Homo sapiens: one gene and its partners. The gene in region 3 interacts genetically with the main gene of each other region. Each region holds a gene or a part of one and is shown on either strand. Other genes may lie near its edges.

What was found.
Region 1: changes in CUL5 (region 3) and IGF2BP1 together harm fitness less than expected from each alone (positive genetic interaction), as found in Homo sapiens cells (one large-scale study listed by BioGRID).
Region 2: changes in CUL5 (region 3) and SEC23IP together harm fitness less than expected from each alone (positive genetic interaction), as found in Homo sapiens cells (one large-scale study listed by BioGRID).

What each region holds. Positions count from the first base shown.
Region 1 is NC_000017.11:49,049,385-49,052,884, forward strand, and holds part of IGF2BP1 (insulin-like growth factor 2 mRNA-binding protein 1), read left to right. Parts: coding exon 1-60; 3' UTR 61-3,500. UniProt on the Homo sapiens protein: RNA-binding factor that recruits target transcripts to cytoplasmic protein-RNA complexes (mRNPs). This transcript 'caging' into mRNPs allows mRNA transport and transient storage.
Region 2 is NC_000010.11:119,906,150-119,909,884, forward strand, and holds part of SEC23IP (SEC23-interacting protein), read left to right. Parts: intron 1-2,891; coding exon 2,892-2,981; intron 2,982-3,735. UniProt on the Homo sapiens protein: Plays a role in the organization of endoplasmic reticulum exit sites. Specifically binds to phosphatidylinositol 3-phosphate (PI(3)P), phosphatidylinositol 4-phosphate (PI(4)P) and phosphatidylinositol 5-phosphate (PI(5)P).
Region 3 is NC_000011.10:108,105,462-108,108,378, forward strand, and holds the end of CUL5 (cullin-5), read left to right. Parts: 3' UTR 1-745; coding exon of another isoform or gene 746-826; 3' UTR 827-2,300; downstream 2,301-2,917. UniProt on the Homo sapiens protein: Core component of multiple cullin-5-RING E3 ubiquitin-protein ligase complexes (ECS complexes, also named CRL5 complexes), which mediate the ubiquitination and subsequent proteasomal degradation of target proteins.

The DNA of each region.
Region 1 (3,500 bases), on a different chromosome or scaffold from region 3:
CAGGTTAAGCAGCAGCATCAGAAGGGACAGAGTAACCAGGCCCAGGCACGGAGGAAGTGACCAGCCCCTCCCTGTCCCTTCGAGTCCAGGACAACAACGGGCAGAAATCGAGAGTGTGCTCTCCCCGGCAGGCCTGAGAATGAGTGGGAATCCGGGACACCTGGGCCGGGCTGTAGATCAGGTTTGCCCACTTGATTGAGAAAGATGTTCCAGTGAGGAACCCTGATCTCTCAGCCCCAAACACCCACCCAATTGGCCCAACACTGTCTGCCCCTCGGGGTGTCAGAAATTCTAGCGCAAGGCACTTTTAAACGTGGATTGTTTAAAGAAGCTCTCCAGGCCCCACCAAGAGGGTGGATCACACCTCAGTGGGAAGAAAAATAAAATTTCCTTCAGGTTTTAAAAACATGCAGAGAGGTGTTTTAATCAGCCTTAAAGGATGGTTCATTTCTTGACCTTAATGTTTTTCCAATCTTCTTCCCCCTACTTGGGTAATTGATTAAAATACCTCCATTTACGGCCTCTTTCTATATTTACACTAATTTTTTTATCTTTATTGCTACCAGAAAAAAATGCGAACGAATGCATTGCTTTGCTTACAGTATTGACTCAAGGGAAAAGAACTGTCAGTATCTGTAGATTAATTCCAATCACTCCCTAACCAATAGGTACAATACGGAATGAAGAAGAGGGGAAAATGGGGAGAAAGATGGTTAAAATACATAATAATCCACGTTTAAAAGGAGCGCACTTGTGGCTGATCTATGCCAGATCACCATCTTCAAATTGGCACAACTGAAATTTCCCCACTCTGTTGGGGCTTCCCCACCACATTCATGTCCCTCTCCCGTGTAGGTTTCACATTATGTCCAGGTGCACATAGGTGGTATTGAATGCTCAGCAGGGTAGGGGCTGACCACTGTCCCTGATTCCCATCGTTCTCAGGCGGATTTTATATTTTTTTAAAGTCTATTTTAATGATTGGATATGAGCACTGGGAAGGGGACGCTAACTCCCCTTGATAAAGTCTCGGTTCCATGGAGGACTTGAGTGGCCCCAAAGGCTGCCACGGTGCCCTCACCCCAGCCCATGTGCTCCCATAAGGGCTGGTTCCTAGAGGCAGGGGTTGTGGGGCACTCCCAGCCACGGCACTGTTACCTTGGTGGTGGGACTTGGAACCCAACCCTGAGCTCCCGATAAAGCTAAAGTCCATCATCTGGCAAATTCAGTAAATTGGAGAGTACTTGCTTCTGTTTGTATCTGAGAGGAATTTTTAACTGACGGCTTCTGTCTCCATGAATCATTATCAGCATGATGAAAGGTGTGTCTAAAAAACAATTCAGAATACCAGCAGCATTGTACAGCAAGGGGTAAATAAGCTTAATTTATTAATTTACCAGGCTTAATTAAGATCCCATGGAGTGTTTAGCCCTTGTGGGAGACAGAAGCCATCAGTTAAATGAGGTTAGGCCTCTCCTCCTAATATACTGATTGACAATGCATATTAGCCAGGTAATGCACTTTAGCTACCCTGGACAATGCTATCAAGTGTGCTGGGAAGGGAGGAAGGCCTCTCTACATATGGAAAAGCCCATGCGTGGAGTTCCCCTCCTTTCAACATTGCAACAACAGTAACAACAAGACAACCGCAACATGTGGGCGTAGTCAGGCAATGCTGTGTGCGAAGTAAACTACCTCAAGGTATGAAGTTACCTCAGCAATTATTTTCCTTTTTGTTCCCCCCAACCCCATTAAAAAAATTTTTTTTTGATTTTTGTTTTTTTGCAGCTTGCTGATATTTTATATAAAAAAGAAAAGCAAAGCAAAAGAGAAGCTGATAGTCTTGAATATTTTATTTTTTTAATGAAAAGAAAAAACAAGAAAGTTATGTTTCATAATTTCTTACAACATGAGCCAGTAACCCTTTAGGAACTCTCTATGGAGAACAGGCCTGGTGGGAAAGGCTTTGGGGGCTGCCCCCTTAGGAGGAGGCTAGTGCTAAGAGGGAAGGCCCAGGTTTGAGAGAGCCCAGAGGGGCAGAGCCCAGAGCCTTGTTTGGCCCTGATCTCTGACTTCTAGAGCCCCAGCTGCTGGCGGCTGCTGGAATATCCTACCTGATAGGATTAAAAGGCCTAGTGGAGCTGGGGGCTCTCAGTGGTTAAACAATGCCCAACAACCAACCAGCTGGCCCTTGGTCTCCTCTCTTTCCTCCTTTGGTTAAAGAGCATCTCAGCCAGCTTTTCCCACCAGTGGTGCTGTTGAGATATTTTAAAATATTGCCTCCGTTTTATCGAGGAGAGAAATAATAACTAAAAAATATACCCTTTAAAAAAACCTATATTTCTCTGTCTAAAAATATGGGAGCTGAGATTCCGTTCGTGGAAAAAAGACAAGGCCACCCTCTCGCCCTCAGAGAGGTCCACCTGGTTTGTCATTGCAATGCTTTTCATTTTTTTTTTTTGTTATTGTTTCATTTCAGTTCCGTCTTGCTATTCTTCCTAATCTATATCCATAGATCTAAGGGGCAAACAGATACTAGTTAACTGCCCCCACCTCTGTCTCCCTGTCTTCTTTAGATCGGTCTGATTGATTTTAAAAGTGGACCCAAACTTAGGGAATTCTTGATTTAGGGTGGCTGGTGGCAAGGAGGGGCAGGGGATATGGGGACGTGACTGGGACAGGTTCCTGCCTTATCATTTTCTCCCTAGGACATTCCCTTGTAGCCCCCAGAATTGTCTGGCCCAAATTGAATAGAAGCAGAAAAACATTTAGGGATAACATCAGGCCAGTAGAATTAAGCCTCTCCACCTGTCCCAACCATAAAAAGGGTCTCCCAGCTTTCCATCTCTGGCTCTATATGCTTTATCCCAAAACAAAGCAGATAACGTTCAGACGTCGGCCATTTAGTAATTTAAAGCGAATTTCCAGCAGCAAGCATGCTTTGATATCTGGTTCAGACTATCATCAGGAAGAAAAAAAAATCCCACAGTACCTGAAATGTGATTGTTGCAGTGTTCAGTTTCCTTGGGGGCCTGCTCCCTTCACACCTTGAGCCCAAGTCCTTTTCCGTTGGCTGATTCAGCTCCCAGAAGAGACGAGGAAGTGTGTGGCAAGGGACTGGAAAACTTCACTTGCTTGGATTAGGCAAGGCTCCACTCATTGTTGATATTTGCCCAGCAGGAAAATCATGTAAGTTATACCACCAGAAAGCAAAAGGAGCATGGTTTGGTGGTTAAGGTTTAGTGGGATGAAGGACCTGTCTTGGTGGGCCGGGCCCTCTTGTGCCCCGTAGGCTAGGTCTTAGGGCAACTCCTTGCCCTCCTGCTCAGCACCTCCATTTCCCCATCCTTGGTGAGATAACAAGCTATCGCGAAAAGCACTTGGGAGATTTGGATGATTTGAGAAGAGTGACTTAAAAAAAATGCTTCTGTGCTCTAAGATATATATGTGTGTGTGTGTGCTACATATATATTTTTAAGAAAGGACCATCTCTTTAGGAT
Region 2 (3,735 bases), on a different chromosome or scaffold from region 3:
CCCATGCCTGTGGTCTTAGCTACTCAGGAGGCAGAGGCAGTAGGATTGCTTGAGCCTGGGATCTTGAGGCTGCAGTGAACTGTGATCGTGTCACAGCACTTTAGCCTGGGCAACAGAGCAAGACCTTGTCTCAGAAAAAAAAAAAAAAAAAAGAAACGGAGCTAAACATTATGTTCATGTAGGCACTATCATAAAAGATGTCAATTCTTCCCAAATTATCAGATAAATTTTAGGCAATCCCAATCAAAATTCACATCAGGGTTTTTTTTTTTTTTTGGTAAAATTTGCAAGCTGCTTCTAAATTTTTTGTGGAAGATCAAAATGTCAAGGATAACCAAGACCATTTCGACAATGAAATGTGAAATCTTTACCAGATAATACTTACTATAAAGCTGTGGATTGAAAGGGAATATGAAGAAGTGAAAATAATTTATTTATTTATTTTTTAAACAGGATCTCACTGTCCCCCAGGGTGGAGTGCAGTGGCGTGATTTCAGCTCACTGTAACCTCAGCCTCCTGGGTTCAAGCGATTCTCCTGCCTCAGCCTTCCGAGTTGCTGGGATTACAGGCGCCTGTCACCATGCCCAGCTAATTTTTGTATTTTTAGTAGAGACAGGGTTTCACCATGTTGGCCAGGATGGTCTCGAATTCCTGACCTCAGGTGGTCCACCCACCTCGGCCTCCCAGAGTGCTAGGATTACATGCGTGAGCCACCACACGTGGCCTGAAAATAATTTTTAAGGTGGTGAAAGTTTTCTTTCTTTAATCCTTGTTGTTTGTGGCCTTGCTTTTAGAAATTATGAATTATATTTGAAGTTTTTTTTTTTTTTAAATCGAAGAGGAGGGTCAGAAGTACAAAAGACTAGGCTGGGCATGGTGACTCACGCCTGTAATCCCAGCACTTTGGAGGCCGAGGCGGGCTGATTGCTTGAGATTAGGATTTCGAGACCAGTCTGGCCAACGTGGTAAAACCCTGTCTCTACTAAAAATACAAAATTAGCCAGGTATGGTTATGCACGCCTGTAATCCCAGCTACTCAGGAGGCTGAGGCAGGAGTATCTCTTGAACCTGGGAGGCGGAGGTTGCGGTGAGCTGAGATCACGCCATTGCACTCCAACCTGGGTGACAGAGTGAGACTCCATCTCAAAAAAAAAAAGTACGGAAGACTGATGAAGAGGAATTGTTACTGTTACTCAATGATTGTCCAAGAAACAGAAGGAAATACTTCTATTTTCACGTGATTGTCAAATACTCACTGTTACTAGTTTTAAAAAAAAGACTTTGTAACAATTTTTACTTGTCAATTAAAAAAATAAATGAACAAAAAAAAGGACTTGTGGATATGCCAGAGGCTCCCTCTTACTTTGTGTTGAATCTCTCCCCAAGAGGTCCTCACGCTTGTTCTTTATAGAAACTAGAATAGTACGATCGGCCCTCCGTATCCACAGGTTCCGTATCTGCAGATTCAACCAAATACTCTGAAAATATTTAGAAAACCACAACAATAAAAATAACACAGGCTGGGCACCGTAGCTCACGCCTGTAATCCCAGCACTTTGGGAGGCTGAGGTGGACGGATCATCTGAGGTCAGGAGTTCGAGACCAGCGTGGCCAATATGGTGATACCTTGTCTCTACTAAAAATAGAAAAATTAGCCAGATGTAGTGGCTCATTGCCTGTAGTGCCAGTTACTCGGGAGGCTGAGGCAGGAGAATCGCCTGAACCTGGGAGGCGGAGGTTGCGGTGAGCAGAGATTGCACCACTGTACTCCAGACTGGGCAACAGAGCAAGACTCTGTCTCAAGAAAATAAAAAATAAAAATTACAGTTTAACTATTGATATCACATCTACATTTCATGAGGTATTATAAGTAATCTAGAGAAGATTTAAAGTATAAGGGAGGATGTATGTAGGTTTTATGCAAAAATAATGCTATTTTATATAAAGGACTTGAACACCAGGGATTTTGGTATCTTTGAGGGGTCTTGGATCCAGTGCCCTGCAGAAACCAAAGAAAGACTATATCTGGAGGAAGAGTAAGAAGATGGTTGGACAGTGAAGATTTTGGAGTCAGAAAGTCCTGGGTGATATTACTCCAGCCCACATGAAAAAAAAGAAAAAGTCAGTCCTGGGTGGCAATGAACTACAGTTCTCCCATTGCTGCTTCCCAGTTGTGTCATCTTGTGCAACTGTATACAGTACTTAAAATGTCTATTATGGGTTGAATTGTGTCTCCCCATCCCCCAAATATGTTGAATTACTAATCCCCAGTGTCTCAGAATGTGACCTTATTTGGAAATAGGGTCATTGCAGATGTAATTAGTTAAGGTGAGGTTTTACTGGAATAGGATGGGCCCCAAAGCCAATATAACTTGTGATGTGAAGACAGACACACAGAAAGAATCCCATATGATGATGGAGGCAAAGGCTGGAGTTACACTGCAAGCCAAGGAAAGCCAGAGATTGCCAGCCACCACCAGAAGCTAGGAAGAGGGAAGGAGGATTTCTTTATAGCTTTCAGAGGAACGGTGGCCTGCCTTCCTGGCACCTAATTTTCTACTTGGAGCCTCCAGAACTATGGGATGATACATTTTTTTTCTAAGTCACTCTGTTTGTGATACTTTGTTAATGCAGCCCTAGGAAATGAACAGACCATCTAAAACTTGGTTTTCTTCATTATATAATGGGGATCCTGTTACTTAGGCGTGATTGAGAGTAATTACTTCAATGGTATGTGTAAGGTGATAAAAAATATGTTAACCAGTCAGGAAATGAGAACTGCTATTACTGTTATTTTTATCACCATTATAGTGACCGTTTTCCTCCATACTTTCTCTCCATGTGGTATAAATTTGTCATGTTGGAATATATGTTGTTTCCCCCATTATAGGCTGAATATAAAAAAGCTGTAACCACTAATCAGTGGCACCGAAGATTAGAGTTTCCAAGTGGAGAGACAATTGTTATGCACAATCCAAAGGTAATGATGGTGTTCAAAATTTTAAGGTATTAAGTTCATTTTAATATTTTTCTGTGTATGTTTGATAAATTGTTCATTTTTAGTAACTTCTACAGTGGGAATGTTTTTGTAACAAGTGCATTGCTTTTAAAATACTTTATTATTATAGTGGATAATACAGATATTATTTCTATGATTCACACTGATCATAGAAACAAAAACACAAATTTTTCGTAGGGCGAGGTGCACACCTGTGAGAGGCTGAGACAGGTGGAATGCTTGAGCCAGGGGGACAGCAGAACCCTGTCTCTATAAAAAATAGAAAAATTAGCTGGGTGTAGTGGCACATGCCTGTAGTCCCAGCTACTCAAGAGGCTGAGGTGGGAGGATTACTTGAGCCCGAGAGGTTGAGGCTGCAGTGAGTCAGGATTGCTCCCCGCTGCACTCTAGTAGCCTGGGTGACAGAGCAAGACCTCGTCTCAAAATAAAAAGTAAATTTTTCTCAGGCTGGGTGTGGTGGCTCACACCTGTAATCCCAGCGCTTTGGGAAGCCAAAGTGGGAAGATTGCTTTAGGCTAGGAGTTTGAGACCAGCCTGGGAAACAAAGAGACTCTGTCTCTACAAAAATTAAAAAAATTAGCTGAGCATAGTGGTGTGCACCTGTCTAGCTACTCGGGAGGCTGAGATAGAGGATCACTTGAGCCCAAGAGTTTGAGATTGTAGTGAGCTGTGATCACGCTCACTCCAGCCTGGGTGACACAGCAAGACTCTGTCT
Region 3 (2,917 bases):
AAAAACAGAAGCAAAATTGTTGCACTCTTAATACGAGCAGTAAACTTGCCAAATATATGTACATATATATTTATATATTTTAAAAATAAACATTTTTTAAATCGTCAGAAGGCAACATTTACCATGTTCCTTTCAGTCTATCCAAAGTAGCAACTTAACTAGTTGCTGGCAACTGAATACCCAGAGTAGTGGAAATTTTAGGACTTGAGGACGTGAACAACTTGAAAGAGAAAATTGATTCCCCTTGAGGAAAGAATGGCTCAACGTGGATTTTTATTCATTGTGGTGCACGTTTCAAATTTTCTTGCAAATTATTTTATATCTTATTTGATGTTAAGTAATATTTTTAAAGTATGGTTTTTGAAGATAGTAGGAAATGGAGTACAGAAAGGCATACAGTATTATGTTACAGTGGAGTGCTTTCAAGAGCATTTCGTAGGATCTGTCCCCATCCGAAGAGGCTTTGTGAACTGCCTGCTGAATGGAAGGAAAGCAACTTTAAAACATTTAGAGTTTTGCTGAGTATAGCCAAATGCCTGTTCTGAAACTTATAGGAAATTGGAATTTTGTTTAAAATTTTACACTTTAAGGTAGCAAATGTCAATTATTAGACCGAGCATATTGTGAAGAATTAAACTAAAATTAATACGTACAGTTTTCTCTAATTAGGTGACTGTTCATAATGGGTATATTTGGAATTTAGAAGAAATAATTTTGTAGTAATTGTGGCCCTTATGTTTAACAGATAATTCAGCATTGGCGTATTTGCTTGTCCCAATACAAGAATGCCAAAGGAGGAAACAGGAAAAATTGCCGTCCATTTTAAAAATTTAGGTTTGTTGTTTTAAACCATAATTGTTCTCAGAACTTTTTTGGAACTTCTAATTTTGGGTCATTTAATTTAAGAATGAGAGTCATGATGTTTTGATTTATGAAGGTGAATTTAATGCAAAAGTGGGTAACACTACATTCATAGCAAAGTTTTTTATTAAATTTTATAAATTTTTAATAGCCAATTATGTCCTAATTGTATTTTGGGGAATGAACAGCAGCAAATACTGTAAATGTACAGTTTTCTTTTTTTTTTTTTTTTGGTTATGTATACAAAAGTTTTAACTACTTTTTGGTGTTTATGAAAATCATTTAGTTGACAAGGTGCCTATGCCATTGTTAAATTTTCTTTAAGTAATTTAACAACAGATTTGCTAATTTAAAAAAAAATGAAAAAAAAAATCTTACCAGCAGTTTGTAAAGGTCTGGAATCACAGTTGGCATCCTTTATTCAGGTCTCTTCTCTCCAGCGTACACTTAAAATTGGTGCCGAGCAGGGATATAACCTGCAGTTAAGTGAAAAGAAAATCCAGCCTCCCCCTCCAAAAAAAAAAAAAAAATTTAATTTTTAAAAATTAGTGGTATGGCAATAAGACACTTCAGAGGCTATCTTAACCTCTGAATACCCATCTTCTAGTTTAAAGACAGAGACATCCCATCTGGAAAATGTTAACTTGTGTTGCCATCTCGTTGCCGGAGTAAGTAGACATAAGACAGAGTTTAAGAAGTAAAAATATAGAAAAATTTTGATGGTCACAATGAGATAAATATTAGAATATTACTATTCCAATGATTAAATGAGGATCTTGAAATAAATTCTGAAGTCTTCCAATTTTTACATTTATTGGAGGGGTCCCTGAGTTCTGTCAACTTTTTTATTTAAGTCTCTTGCTCTTATTTTGTGCATAAATGTTAAACCTTCCAAAAATGAAATGTTAGCTTTCTTTCTTTTACTTTTTATTAAATTTAATAGAAAATATGACCTGAGTAGTTAAAAAGTATTTTGCATTATTTGCAGTAAGATGTCTCTAGCACTGCTCAAAGGGCAAATTTTAAAACTTCAGTCTGGGTGAAAGATTTGCTAGTTTTACAGAAAGATTTGCTATCTTAAACTCAAGCTGGTTTTTCTGTTCTCATGTAAGTGACTGGGATGCTGTCTTATGAATTCTTCCAAGGTCATGTTTGTGAAATAAACATTACATGAGAGCTTTCCTGTCATCTACACTATATGTTGTCTGGAGTGTTGAACAAATTTATTTTAGTTTCTAAGTTGTAATCTATCCTCATATGGTCTATACGATTTTGAATGTGTGCCACTACATACTGAGATGATAATGCTGTACAATTTTAAGTGGTAGCAGTTTCTGTATGCAGTAGGCTGAAATATTTTGATGAACTGCTTAATTTTTGGATTTTATTTTTTAAGTTGTATAATTTATTTTCTTGCAAAATAAAAATGTAATATAAAAGCTTTTACCTATCCAGAAAATGTTGATGTTCTACTATAAAATAGTTACAAAGAGTTTAATTAAAATTTTTATAGTAGGTATATTTTTAAATTTGAAGGTAAATTAATCTCAGCCAGCCTTAGGAATCAGAAATATGAAAAGTAACCCACTTATTTATATTAGACTTCAAATTCTAATTCAAAATGAGAGCAGTCAGGAATGTAGCTTTTCCACTGATGATAGCATGTGGCTATATGCCTGGAAGAGGTAATAAAAAAAAAAAAATTCCAACCTGAAAGTGGTTAATATATTCATCAACTAAGATAGGCTATGTCATAACAAAATTCAAATTTTATAGCAGATAAAAGTAAAAAATGGGCCGGGCTCAGTGGCTCACGCCTGTAATCCCAGCACTTTGGGAGGCCAAGGTGGGTGGATCACCTGAGGACAGGAGTTCAAGACCAGCCTGGCAAACATGGTGAAACCCTGTCTCTACTAAAAATATAAAAATTAGCCGGGTGTAGTAGCGCGCGCCTGTAGTCCCAGCTACTCGGAAGGCTAAGGCAGGAGAATCGCTTGAACCCGGGAGGCGGAGGTTGCAGTGAACCAAGATTGTGCCACTGCACTCCAGCCTGGGC